2 linked regions of the Homo sapiens genome follow. The protein of the gene in region 2 purifies or fractionates together with the protein of the main gene of each other region. This does not show direct contact. Each region holds a gene or a part of one and is shown on either strand. Other genes may lie near its edges.

Region 1 (7,037 bases), on a different chromosome or scaffold from region 2:
TGGTGACCTAAGACTCTAGAAGCCTCTGCTAGGTAGATCCATATGATGCCCTGGTCTTGCCAAGTTCAGGGAGCTGGGTGCCAAGTCTATCAGCATTCCTCTGGGGCCAGGCCAACAAAGGTAGCGTAAGAACATGGCTGAGTAACCCGAGCCTTGGTTAGGAGCCTCATATGTGCTCCCCTTAAAGGTGCTGTATTTTTCCATTCCTGGGAAATTCTTAAATCTCAGGTGACTCATCATCTCTTTCACTTGCACCAAAGGTGAACCCCAGCTCTCCTCCCTCCTTTTCCCTGTCCTAGCCCAACCTCAGCAGGGTCACACACCATCTCTGAGTGATCCTAGGGTCAGCTTGCCTGAGGCATCTGCCCTTCATTGTTGCTGCTTAGCATGATTTGGGGGGCATGGAGTTTCCCCTAGCGCAGGGTTGCCCGATTTAGCAAATAAAAATACAGGACACCCAGTTAAATTTGAATTTAAGATAAACAGTGAATGTATGTATGTATGTCTCAAATATTTTGTTGTACTTTGCCTGATAACTTCATCCCGGGAGTCTTTGTTTGTTTGTTTTTGGAGAGTCAGGGTCTCGCTCTGTCACCCAGGCCGGAGTGCAGTAGTGCAATCATAGCTCACTACAGCCTCAAACTCCTGGGCTCAAATGATCCTTATCCAGGGAGTATTTATTTATTTATATATATTTTTGAGACAGAGTCTCCCTCTGTTGCCCAGGCTGGAGTGCAGTGTTGCAATCTCGGCTCTGCAACTTCCACCTCCTGGGCTCAAGTGATTCTTGTGCCTCAGCCCCCTGAGTAGCTGGGATTACAGGTGCGCACCACCCTGCTCAGCTAATTTTTTTTTTTTTTTTTTTTTTTTTGGAGATGGAGTCTCACTCTGTTGCAGGCTGGAGTGCAGTGGCACAATCTCGGCTCACTGCAAGCTCCGTCTCCTGGGTTCACGCCATTCTCCTGCCTCAGCCTCCCGAGTAGCTGGGACTACAAGTGCCCGCCACCACGTCTGGCTAATTTTTTTGTATTTTTAGTAAAGACAGGGTTTCACCGTGTTAGCCAGGATGGTCTCGATCTCCTGACCTCGTGATCCACCCACCTTAGCCTCCCAAAGTGCTGGGATTACAGGCGTGAGCCACTGTGCCCAGCCGCTCAGCTAATTTTTTATTTTTAGTAGAGATGGGGTTTTGCCATGTTGCCCAGGCTGGTCTCGAACTCATGTCCTCAAGTGATCCGCTCGCCTAGACCTCCTAAGTGCTAGGATTACAGGCGTGAGTCACCATTCCCGACCTCTGGAGTATTTAAATGCCTTCCTTTTTTTTTTTTTTTTTTGAGATGGAGTCTTGCTCTGTTGCCCAGGCTAGAGTGCAACAACATGATCTTGGCTCACTGCAACCTCCACCTCCCGGGTTCAAGCCTCAGCCTCGGGAGTAGCTGGGATTACAGGCACGTGCCACCACGCCTGACTAATTTTTTGTATTTTTAGTAGAGATGGGGTTTCGCCACGTTGCCCAGGCTGGTCTCAAACTCCTGACCTCAGGTGATCCACCCGCCTCGGCCTCACAAAGTGCTGAGATTACAGGCACGACCCACTGCACCCGGCCTATTTATTTATTTATGCAAGAGTCTTGCTCTGTTGCCCATGCTGGAGTGCAATGGCACGATCTTGGCTCACTGCAACCTTTGCCTACCGGGTTCAAGCGATTCTCCTGCCTCAGCCTCCTGAGTAGCCGGGGTTACAGGCTCACACTACCACACCCAGCTAATATTTGTATTTTTAGCAGAGAAGGGGTTTTATCATGTTGGCCAGGCTTGTCTTGAACCCCTGACCTCATGTGATCCACCCACTTTGGCCTGCCAAAGTGGTGGGATTACAGGGGTGAGCCACCAAGCCAGCCTTACCACACTATTTAAAATTACCTCCCTCTCTCACTGCCCCCCTTTCCTGCTTTATTTTTCTCAGTAGCATTTATCACCATGTAATAGGCTATCTACTTATTTATTGTCTGTCTCCCTCACTACAAATAAAAACTCCATTAAGTCTCTGTCTATTTTATTTATTGATGTATCCTCTGTGCCTAAAACAAGAGTGTGTCAAATAATAGGCACTCAATAACTCAGTGTTGTACGAATAAATCTATCTGTAAAAAGAGAGGTAATAATAAGATCTACCTCCCAGGGAAATACGATGACAGTTATGAAAATTAAATGAGAGAATAAATGTAAAGACCTTGCATTTAAATACTCTAGGCAGATACCGAGTAAGTATTCATCTAGGATGCTTCTTTGTTGGCTGAGTCCTGGGAGAAGGGTGTGTGGCAGGCCAGGTCTCACTAACACAGGCCTCCATAACAACTGTTTCAGTACTAACTGAGTGGTTAAGTTACATATTAAAAGCTAAAAAAAAAAAGCCAGTGCCCTTATACAAAGGATGGAATGTAACAAAAGCCCACCAAGAGTTTTGCCTAGGCCTTTCCTTGGCCTTAAAGCATGACAAAATAACGAAAGAATTCCTAACAGGACCCATTTAGGATTAAACAAATTTTATTGGGGGTCTGAAGTAACTCCCCAAACCTCCGTGATTTAGTAGGAGGCAAGATAAGGATAATCACCCCAGCACCTATTGCCATTTAGATTAAGTAAATTTACTGAGGCTTCAAAGGAAAGTCTTCAGGACTCAAACCTTAGTTATAGACTAAAGTGAGTTAATCAATTATTATTATTATTATTTTTTTTTTTTTGAGACGGAGCCTCCCTCGCCCAGGCTGGAGTGCAGTGCCGGGATCTCGGCTCACTGCAAGCTCCGCCTTCCGGGTTCACGCCATTCTCCTGCCTCAGCCTCCCTAGTAGCTGGGACTACAGGCGCCTGTCACTGCGCCCAGCTAATTTTTTGTATTTTTAGTAGAGATGGGGTTTCACCGTGGTCTCGATCTCCTGACCTCGTGATCCGCCCGCCTTGGCCTCCCAAAGTGCTGGGATTACAGGCATGAGCCACCGCGCCCGGCGAGTTAATCACTTATGTCTTTAGATGAATGCACATTTACACGTAGACATATAGCTTAGAAGGTATATAAGCTCTGGAAAGCTTTGTAATTTTAAGTTGGTCTGGTGATAATTTCCAGGCCTTCTCCCTGTAACTGGTTGCAGAAATAAAAACTCGCTTCCTCTCCAGTTCATCTGCATCTCCTTACTGAACCAGGAGAAACAGCAGCCTGACGCTCAGTTTGGTCCAGGAACAGGTGGTGGAGGGCTCTCGAACTTTTTTCTTTTTTTTTTTTTTTTTTTGAGATGGAGTCTCGCTCTGTCGCCCAGGCTGGGGTGCAGTGGCGCGATCTCGGCTTACTGCAAGCTCCGCCTCCTGGGTTCACGCCATTCTCCTGCCTCAGCCTCATGAGTAGCTGGGACTACAGGCGCCCGCCACTACGCCCCGCTAACTTTTTTTGTATTTTTAGTAGAGATGGGGTTTCACCGTGTTAGCCAGGATGGTCTCGATCTCCTGACCTTGTGATCCGCCCGCCTCGGCCTCCCAAAGTGCTGGGATTACAGGCTGAGCCACAGCGCCCGGCTCTCTCGAACTTTTTTGGCAGATTTTTGCTGTTGATCAGCCCCGCTTCCCCAACTTTCCCCTGGGTCTCTCTCCCCCGGGAGTTTCTGGTTCCTCTGCGATTAATCACAGCCAAGTCTAGCTGGTTCTTCAGGACGGAGAATAAATAGGATAAACAGGAGCAGCCGAACCCTAACTTTGAGAGCTTTCTCCCCTCCTCTCCTAACTTCCCAGTCAGTGACTCGGAAGACTTTAACAGCAACAGCTGCCTCCTCTTGCCAGCTTGATCCCACCTGCTAAGTGAAGGAACAGCGTTTAAAGAGGTGGCAATCGGCAAGGGTGGATGCTTCCCTTTCCGCGCAGGCGCGTTCAGTCGCAGCACCGCGACTATCGTGATAGACAAGCGAGATCGACGCTGGCCCTTTAATAGCCCTTTCCCGGGGTCCTGCCCCGCGCGTGCGCACTGTGGTTCTGCGCTTGTCATCATGGCGACGCGGGGCCATGTGCAGGACCCTAACGACAGGCGCCTCCGGCCCATTTACGGTGAGTGTCTTGGACCAGCCCGCTCGCCAGCCCGACGCGCCGAGGGCTGCCGAGGCTGGGGCGAAAGCCCAGGAGGGGTGCTGAGGGCCGGCGCGCGGGCCGGGCAGGCGCAGGGGGGCGGGCCGCGCGGGCCACTAGGCCGCAGCCGCGGGCCTCGCGTAGGCGCCGGCCCAACCTTCCTCAGCCTTGGGGTGGTAGTGGCGCGGTCTGGGCAGCAGCTGGTCGGCAGAGCTGGCCTGCTTGGCAGGCCCCGTGGGACGCGTGGTTCTGCAGACACCTGCGCTACCCGCAGGCTGCATCGTTACCGCCGCTCCTAGGGAGACCGGAGATCTCCCCGAAGGTGGAAGCCGGCTCCGGCACGAGGGTGGGACGCCCTGCCTGAGGGAAGATTCCCTACCAGAGATTTTTTTTTATTTACGGGAATTGGGCCTAGAGGGTTGTCTGACTAGGTGGGCTTCGGTGCATAGGAGAAACTGAGGTCCGGAGTGGGGAAGGGGCTGACGCAAGGTCACCCAGATCGAGTCAGGAGCAGGCCCGAGATTCCAGGCTCCCAATCCAGAGCTGTTGGGTGGAGAAGCAGCTACTCTGGTCACACGTGGGAGGCGGGGGGAGGGGGTCTTGGGCCTAAAATAGCGGTGAAGAGATTGTGATAGCTCGTGTCAGAGGGGCATGCAGAGCTACTGGAGGGCTTCTCCTTTCTGCAGCTTCTCTGTGGTTTTCTCTGCAGCTTTCCTTCCCTGTGCTAAGCAGATCCCTCTCCACAACTCTTACCTCAACCCGCAGACTTGAAGACCTTGATGTCATCTCATCCATTTACCCTGGTAGTGAAAAATCACAGATTTTGAGTTTGGGAGAAACCCTTTTCCAATAACCGAAATGTGTAATTGGATTGGTCCTTTTTGCATTTCCTTTCCTCTTAGATGGTTTTATGGTCTTGGTCTATCTCACTTAATGGTGAGGAAGCTTCAAGGTCAGTGGTTTTTACAAAAGTAGACATCGTATTTATAGACCTCATGTGGATGTTACTAAATTGGAGGCTTCTCTCCAAGGTGGGAATCGTTTTGGGAGCGGGGGGCGGTGGTTAACTTTGTTTCTGGCCACAGTTAGTCCGGCTTTTATTTCATAATTTGTGTGATTTTTTTTTTTACTCTCACATCTCATTTGATTTTAGCAACAATCCTATAGCTAAGGTTTATAGATGACTCATTATGACAGTCACTGGCCTTGGCCTTTTATATGGGTTATCTAATATAATCTTCACCCATTCTCAAGAGGTGGCTACTGTTTTTTCCTGCCCCTGAACCCTTTAACAACAACAACAACAAAAAAAAAAACAGATGAGGAAACTGAGGCTTTATTGTTGTTGTGTAATTTGTCTAAGGCCACTCAGTTAGTATTTCTTGGAGCTAGAATTTGAACCCCTGTGGACTGTTTCAGGCTCACCTTTTTTTTCTTTTGAGATGAGTCTCACTCTGTCGTCCAGGTTGGAGTACAGTGGCACAATCTCAGTTCACTGCACCCTCTGCCTCCCAGGTTCAAGCGATTCTCCTGCCTCAGCCTCCTGAGTAGCTGAGATTACAGTTGCACGCCACCAGGCCCAGCGAACTTCCATGTTTTTAGTAGAGACAGGAGTTTACCATGTTAGCCAGGCTGGACTTGAACTCTTGACCTACTCAGCCTCCCAAAGTGCTGGGATTATAGGTGTGAGCCACCATGCCTGGCTCCAGGCTCACCTTTTTTTTTTTTTTTTTTTTTTTTTTGGAGACAGTCTCATTCTGTCATCCAGGCTAGAGTGCAGTTGCACAATCACAGTGCACTGCAACCAGCCTCCGCCTCCTGGGTTCAAGTGATTCTCCTGCCTCAGTCTCCTGAGTAGCTGGGATTACAGGTGCCCGCCACCATGCCGGCTAATTTTTGTATATATTGTAGAGAATGGGTTTCGTCATGTTGCCCAGTCTAGTCTAAAACTCCTGAGCTCAAGCAGTCCTGCCTCAGCCTCCCAGAGTGCTGGGATTACAGGTGTGAGCCACTGTGCCTGGCCCAGGCTCACCTTCTTAACCACTGTGCTAGAAACTACCTCACTTTGAGCTGAAGACACTGATTTGCCTGAGGTCACACAGATGGTAAGTGGCAGAGAAAGGACTCTGATTTCCTATTTCCCCGGGGCTGCATATTCTCATGCCCTTGCCCTCCAGTGTATATTTTCAGAGGGCAGAGATATATATACAAGGTGGGTGATGGAAGGTGAGAACTGAATCCAGGGTTCATAGTTTGTGACTCATTACAGCTTTGTGCAGCAGCTGCCTGCAGACTTTTTTTTTTTTAAACTAAAAACACTCAATACTTTCAAGAATAATTTGATTTTTAAAATTGTTCTTGAGGACCAAAGAGAATTTCTTTGGTCCCATAGTTATTTAGAATTAATAGTGTTTTGACTGTCTAATGGGAAACACCATGTCCATTTCACATCACTAAACATCAGGATATATTAACAAGTTATATTCTCAAAACTGAAGTCAGAATTATGTAGCTTTTGTAACATGTACATGGGAAGAGGATTAGAAGAGGCTTTCTTCAGTAATTCTAAGGCGATTAGTATAAACTGGCAGGACTAGGAAAAGAACGGTACAGACTGTCCGTGAATTCAGCACTTAAGCACATTTGACTTTTGAACTCCACACTTTTGTTGTTTAAATACATTACTACCCCCAAACAACCATGGTTCCTTGAATTCAGACATTCTGACAAATGAACAAACTCATCTATGGTGGTACTTGCCCACCAGCCAAAAATTCAACAACTATCAGCATTAATTAGTGTTTACTGGTGGGCTGACTGCCCTATTAGGTAGGTAAGATTATTGTGATCAAACTGAAGCCTAGAGATTAACTTGCTCAAGGTTGTAGCTACCAAGTTGTAGAGCTGGGATTTGAACATAGACATTCTCA
Region 2 (7,215 bases):
TCAGAACTGTGTTGTTAATAGATGTTTAAAAAAAAAAAACAAATAAATTGTGGGGTAGGTATGGGTGCTTGATGTCTTATACTTATTTACATTTTAAGCTCTTCTTATGGTGTCTCTGGCCATAGCCATAATGAGTTTGTGGTTACTAAATCAGTCCTCAGAGGCCTAGATGGGTTGAACATGGAAATTACTTAATAAAAGAAACTCAGGTAGTTGGAATAACAAAGTGACCCTAAAGCAAAACTGCTTGTGTTGAATATAGTTCCAATAAATATCTGCCATTTGAATTGGTTTAGTTAGTTCTTCTCTGACCCTCAGTCTCTTCATTTGTTAAATATGATTCTTAATAGAACCTATATTATTAGGACGTCTTGTGGATTAAGTAGGTTCCTGTTAGTCAGCATTAGAATAGTCCCTGACACAGAGAGCATGCAATGAAAGTTTGTGTTAAATGGCCAGATGCAGTGGCTCATGCTTGTAATCACAGCACTTTGGGAGGCTGAAGTGGGTGGATCACCTGAGGTTAGGAGTTCGAGACCAGCCTGGCCAACATAGTGAAACCCTGTCTCTACTAAAAATACAAAAATTATCCAGGCGTGGTGGCTTATGCCTGTAATCCCAGCTACTTGTAAGGCTGAGGCAGGAGAATCACTTGAGCCTGAGAAGCGGAGGTTGCAGTGAGCTGAGATGGCACCACTGCACTACAGCCTGGGTGACAGAGTGAGGATCCATCTCAAAAAAAAAAAAGAAAAAGAAATTTTTTGTCAAATAAAACAGAGGTTTCCTGTGAAGCAGAAAAGGCTAAGTTATAAGTAAGTTTTCTTTATGTCTGCAGAACACAGCAGACCAGGGAAAGTCCTGAATGTATCTTGTATTTCTTGAGCTCCTTTCCTCTCCAGTCTAAGGTTTGCAGACAGGCTTCTATTCACATGCCTGCTAAGTATTTAAACAAGAGGAAAATTATTTCTCAATAACAAGTCTAAAATCTCTATTACAAGCATCAAAAGCAGAAAATACCTACTGGATGATGGCCAGTAGCACCATTTATCACCTACAGCCTTGAAACGTTCTAAGCCATATTAAGTCTTATCAAGAAATTGCCCCACTTGGGCACATATTAACCCTAACGTCCATGATACTTGTTTCTATCTCTGAGAAAATTAACATAAGGAATAGATGGGAAAGGCCTGAAATGAGCTTCTGGGAATCTTATAAAACTAGGTCAAAGGTCCTTGAAGTTCCTCAGAAAAATAAGGAAAATATTAAAGGGATTGAATGTATGGCTTTCCTGAAAAAGGAATTTCTCTGGGACCAAGGCTGCTACCAATTTATGTCCTAAATTTTGTTATCTTGCATGTGGAATTTGGCCAGTCACCTATGTAAGCAATAAGTGCAACTTCTCAATGGATTTACTGCTACTGGGGACAATAAAGATTTTTATGGGAGTACTTTGTCAATTGTTATTTGTTTTGAATCTCTGTTTTATGTCTTCCTGGTTGTAACATATTTTATTGTGTATTTTAGAGTATTAGGTCTTTTATACCTGGACAGTCATTTCTTGTTTGAAGTTATGTTAAATTTAGAAAAAATCTCATATTTTAAAAATATTTATTATAAAGTCATATGCATACATATGTTCATTGCAGCACTGTTCACTATAGCAAAGACATGGAATCAACCTAAATGCCCATCAATGATAAACTGGATAAAGAAAATGTGGTACATATACACCATGGAATACTATGCAGCCATACAAAAGAATGAGATAATGTCCTTTTGAGGGACATGAATGGAGCTGGAGGCCATTATCTTTAGCAAACTAACACAAGAACAGAAAACCAAATACTGCATGTTCTCACTTATAAGTGGGAGCTAAGTGATGAGAACAATTGAACAAATAGTGGGGAACAACACACACTGGGGCCTTTTGGAGGGTGGAACATGGGAGGAGGGAGAGGGTCAGCAAAAGTAACTAAGGGTACTAGGCTTAATACCTGGGTGATGAAATAATCTGCACAACAAACCCCCATTACACAAGTTTACCTCTGTAACAAACTTGCACTTGTACCACTTAACTTAAAATTAAAGTTAAAGGGTGGGTGTGTTAGCTCACGCCTGTAATCCCAGCATTTTGGGAGGCTGAGGCAGGCAGATCATGAGGTCAGGAGATCGAGACCATTCTGGCTAACACGGTGAAACCCCATCTCTGCTAAAAATAAAAAAAAATAAAAAAACTTAGCCGGGTGTGGTGGCGGATGCCTGTAGTCCCAGCTACTCTACTCGGGAGGCTGAGGCAGGAGAATGGCGTGAACCCCAAAGGCGGAGCTTGCAGTGAGCTGAGATTGAGCCACTGTACTCCAGTCTGGGTGACAGAGCCAGACTCCATCTCAAAAAAAAAAAAAAAGATTAAAGTTAAAAAAAGAAAAGAAAACATTATGCCATAAAGTATTTTTATCTTAGATTTTTTAAAAATTAATTGCTTGTTTAATTTTCACAAGATAAATATGTAATGATACCAAGTATACCCGACTCTTCCCTACTATATCCTTTGTTAACGGAAGAATATTTCTGAATCTCTTATTTATAGAAAAAAATAGGAATCATTCTCTGGTTGTAATCATTTTAAAAGGTATAACTACTTTTTGTAAAAGCAGAAAAAATTTGGATTAATTTAACAAATGCATATGAACCAGTGAGAATAAACAATGTTAACATTTGTCATCTTTGTTTAATATCGTTAGTTTTTGTTTTTATTTTTTGAGACAGTTCCCTGTTCTATCACCCAGGCTGGAGTGCAGTGGCACAACTCACTGCAACCTCTACTTCCCAAGCTCAAACAATCCCCCACCTTAGCCTCTTAAGTAGCTGAGACTACAGGCATGTGCCACCATATCTGGATATATATATATATATATATATATATATATATATATATATATATATATATATATATACTTTTTTTGTAGAGATGGGGTCTCGCTATGTTGCCCAGGCTGGTCTCGAATTCCTGGGCTCAAGTGATCCTCTCATCTCAGTCTCCCAAAGTGCTGGGATGACAGGCTTGAGCCACCACACCAGGCCCATCATCAGTTTTTATATAAAGAAAAAAAAACCTTAAAATTGTTAGGCAAATACTATGACAAATTGTAATATATATTCTTACATTTCAGATTTTTATTTTTTAAACTGTATAAGAATTGATTAATAAATAAAATTTAGTATTAATCTGTCTTTTAAAACCATATATAAAGTTTATCAAATAGCTTATAACTTCTTGCAACTGAATTTTTGTATTCAATGTTATGGCTTTGATACTAGTCCAAGTTGAAATATAGATATCTACTTTATTCGATTTAAATTCTGTTTAGTATTTTATTATATTTTGTTAATCCATTTGTCCCAATTCATATACTTATCTCTCTTTCTGTGAATATTCAGGTTAGTTTTTTCTTCCTAATTTTGCATTCTGATTGGCTTTTATTCCCTGAATTATAAATGACTATTCTATGATGATTCTGGTAAATACTCAATTTCACCACACAATCTTTGACTTCATACTAACAAACAGTTGACTTCAAATGGACAATTTCAATGAAGCCTGACTTCATATTTAGCTCCTTTAAGCTTCCTTAGGCATCAGCTCTCTACAATTCTCACATTGAGAATATGTGTATTTTGTTAGCTCAAACCTTGTTAGACATGTTAAATGTTTAGAAATATAAATTTAACCTACCCCTTGAGGTAGGTCTTGAGAGGTTTGTGAGCCTAAAAAGACATGGAGGAACCACTTATTGCCACAAGCACATTGTTCTAAATTATTTGGAATCAGTTAATTCTTCCCCATCTCCTACCCATGCCTGACACCAAAGAGGAGCCTCTAAATTTACAGGGAATACAAGGAAGTCTACTGTTCTCTGCTCCTCTCTGGGTTATTAGGGCACATGGGAGCCCTCAGTTGTTTTCTGCTGAGCAAGAGCAAAGTCCACCTTGGACTTAGACAGCTTGCCAAATTTTTTGCCAGAAGGGGACCTGAGTTGTGACCACTCCCAGTGTGTGCCGGGAAAAGGCTCGTACTGGTGCCAGAATCTCTTACTGTCAATGCTCCCAAAACTCACCGCTTGCCCCCACCCCTTTTGCTTAAATGACGTGGTTCTTATCTCAGATCCTGATATAAAGCTCCTACAGCTACCTGGCCTGAGAAGCCAACTCAGACTCAGCCAACAGGTAAGTGGGCATTACAGGAGAAGGGCGTCTCTAACATGCACTGTAGATCTAAAATCTTCGGGAAGATACAGCATGAGTTTCTGTCCAAGAGGTTTTAGCTGTAATGAAGCCTCAGTGGGATCCAAAGTTGTTTTTCAGTTACTGAGTCTGTATAATCCCCACTCTCAAGAGAAACATTTGAAGGTGTGGGTGTCTCAGAGGACCTTCCTGGTCTCAGAAATTCTGAGAGGAGGTTTTAAGGAAGGTAATAGGTGCTTTGCTCTCCATCTCTCAGAACCCCCTTCTCTGTGTTCTCCTATAGAGATTGTTGATTTGCCTCTTAAGCAAGAGATTCATTGCAGCTCAGCATGGCTCAGACCAGCTCATACTTCATGCTGATCTCCTGCCTGATGTTTCTGTCTCAGAGCCAAGGTAAGATCTCTTTTCCACCAACCAACTCTTTCTAGCCCTGAAGACTTCACTCTATCCCCAAGCATACGGGTCTACTTGAAAAAAAAAAAAAAAGCAGAGTCACTGTTAAGGGTTGTTTTGTGGTGTTTAGTGATCTTTATTGCTGATCTCTTCACATTTATATACATCCACACCTCATTAAGGAGTTGGAGCTAGAATTTAAAATGACCCCTTATAAGCAACTGCTGCAGTTGGCATGAGTTTATCTGATTAAATTTATACGTGATGGTGGATTTGGGGATGTCTGTGTGTAGACAGTCACTAATGGGGTGGAGAACTGAAGAGAGCCTTGTGTTCAGGGAAACCAAGTCAGGCTTGAGAAAGTAGAAGGCTGAGTCCTTCAAGGTAGAAGAGCCTGAGCTCCAGACATAAAAGGGAAACTGGAGACTTGTTTCTTTGGCCTATTCATTCTGTTTTTTTTCCCCTGATCAAAGAAACCAAAGACAGAAGATGTAGGATGCAGGAGCAATAGTGAGCAGTCATCCCATAATAGACTGGATTCTTCTGTTTCTATAAAGGAACCTCAGAAGCTCTTACCTCACCTTCAAGCCTTTTCCTTACCCTGAGAGCCTCCTTTAATTGTCTCTTCTTTTTCAGGCCAAGAGGCCCAGACAGAGTTGCCCCAGGCCCGGATCAGCTGCCCAGAAGGCACCAATGCCTATCGCTCCTACTGCTACTACTTTAATGAAGACCGTGAGACCTGGGTTGATGCAGATGTGAGTGAGGAGAGCAGTGTGGGAAGGGAGACTCATGAAGGGAGGGGAAGCTGCCACTCTCCAGTGTGTTCAGTGGCTGCAATGAGATGAGACTGAACCCCTTGCTATACTATCATCAGCCCCAAACTTTCCAATCTACTTTATCCCATTATTCAGCACATTCCCAGCACAAAGAACCTGGTGGTCAGTGACAGCATCATCACGGACATTACTCTGCTGTCCTTTTTCTGACCCGTCCTCTTGGAGGACTCAGTATATCCGTCACAACTTCCTCCTCCACTGAGTGCTCCATTTTCTTCTGCAACAGCTCTATTGCCAGAACATGAATTCGGGCAACCTGGTGTCTGTGCTCACCCAGGCCGAGGGTGCCTTTGTGGCCTCACTGATTAAGGAGAGTGGCACTGATGACTTCAATGTCTGGATTGGCCTCCATGACCCCAAAAAGGTAGGCTGCAGCCTTCTTTATCTCCTAATGATCAGGTTTGAGAAGTAAGAAGGAGGTTCAAGTTCTGGTCTCTTAAGTACCAGCTTTTATCGCTTTCCAGAAATCAGGCTGTTTACAGATCCTCTAATGTCCTGTGTAGCAAGGTGCACTGTAGATGATTGGAGATATAAGTGGAAGGCTGAATTTCCTAGGTGTTCTTGTCATTCATGAATAAACTTATTCTGTTTTCAGTCAACAAAGCATCTTTATGCACCAACTTCTTACCTATTTTGTTACTGTCAGAGTCACAAGAGAGACTAGATTGCCGACTATATAGGAAAGGAGACTTGTGGTAAAAATCTGCTGCTGTACTGCTGGCATTTGGGAACCTGGTAGTATACTAAATAATATAATATATCAACAACTAATGGTCAGCCAATGCTATGCTGGATATGAGGGTCCTGGGCCACAAAGACAAAAAATCAGGAACCACTTTTTAAGTGAGATACTTTGGGTCTCTGTCAAATTCATAACACTTATTTCTTGGTGGAATACAGTTAATGAGTTGGACAGTTCAGGAAAGAAGTTTAGAGCAATAGCAAAGGAAAGGAAACAATATTTAGCAAGGTTTATTCTTCCTTTGTGTCTTAGCATGTTTCTGAGTGTGCACACAGGCCCAGTGATTCCATGTATTTTTGAGTGACCACTGCCTCTGTTCTGGCCCTTCCCCATCTAGAACCGCCGCTGGCACTGGAGCAGTGGGTCCCTGGTCTCCTACAAGTCCTGGGGCATTGGAGCCCCAAGCAGTGTTAATCCTGGCTACTGTGTGAGCCTGACCTCAAGCACAGGTGAGAGGCAGAGAATCCATCCACCTGTTTCTGTTCTCTCCTGCTTAGCTCCAGGGATGGAACTGGGACTGGGATAGAGGAAAGGTGAACTCCTCATTAAGGAAATGGATGTTTGGTTTTTGTCCTGAGTCCTAAAGCCAGGAGGGTCATACTCTTTCGGGTCTCCCAGTTGTAACTCTTCTCATTGACTTATAGGATTCCAGAAATGGAAGGATGTGCCTTGTGAAGACAAGTTCTCCTTTGTCTGCAAGTTCAAAAACTAGAGGCAACTGGAAAATACATGTCTAGAACTGATCCAGCAATTACAACGGAGTCAAAAATTAAACCGGACCATCTCTCCAACTCAACTCAACCTGGACACTCTCTTCTCTGCTGAGTTTGCCTTGTTAATCTTCAATAGTTTTACCTACCCCAGTCTTTGGAACCCTAAATAATAAAAATAAACATGTTTCCACTATTGTGCTGTCTTACTGTGTCTGCTATTTCCACAGCTGATGCCTGGGTGGTTGAGATGAGAGTGATTACAACAAAGCTTGCTCTGGCCTATCCACTT

Evidence for each region.
Region 1: the proteins of REG1A (region 2) and NAA25 purify together in Homo sapiens (co-immunoprecipitation; 2 studies listed by BioGRID and IntAct, with this or other methods). This does not show direct contact.

What each region holds. Positions count from the first base shown.
Region 1 is NC_000012.12:112,105,768-112,112,804, reverse strand, and holds the start of NAA25 (N-alpha-acetyltransferase 25, NatB auxiliary subunit), read left to right. Parts: upstream 1-4,021; 5' UTR 4,022-4,031; coding exon 4,032-4,089; intron 4,090-7,037. UniProt on the Homo sapiens protein: Non-catalytic subunit of the NatB complex which catalyzes acetylation of the N-terminal methionine residues of peptides beginning with Met-Asp, Met-Glu, Met-Asn and Met-Gln. May play a role in normal cell-cycle progression.
Region 2 is NC_000002.12:79,116,291-79,123,505, forward strand, and holds REG1A (lithostathine-1-alpha precursor), read left to right. Parts: upstream 1-4,197; 5' UTR 4,198-4,224; intron 4,225-4,525; 5' UTR 4,526-4,571; coding exon 4,572-4,635; intron 4,636-5,271; coding exon 5,272-5,390; intron 5,391-5,697; coding exon 5,698-5,835; intron 5,836-6,550; coding exon 6,551-6,662; intron 6,663-6,857; coding exon 6,858-6,925; 3' UTR 6,926-7,119; downstream 7,120-7,215. UniProt on the Homo sapiens protein: Might act as an inhibitor of spontaneous calcium carbonate precipitation. May be associated with neuronal sprouting in brain, and with brain and pancreas regeneration.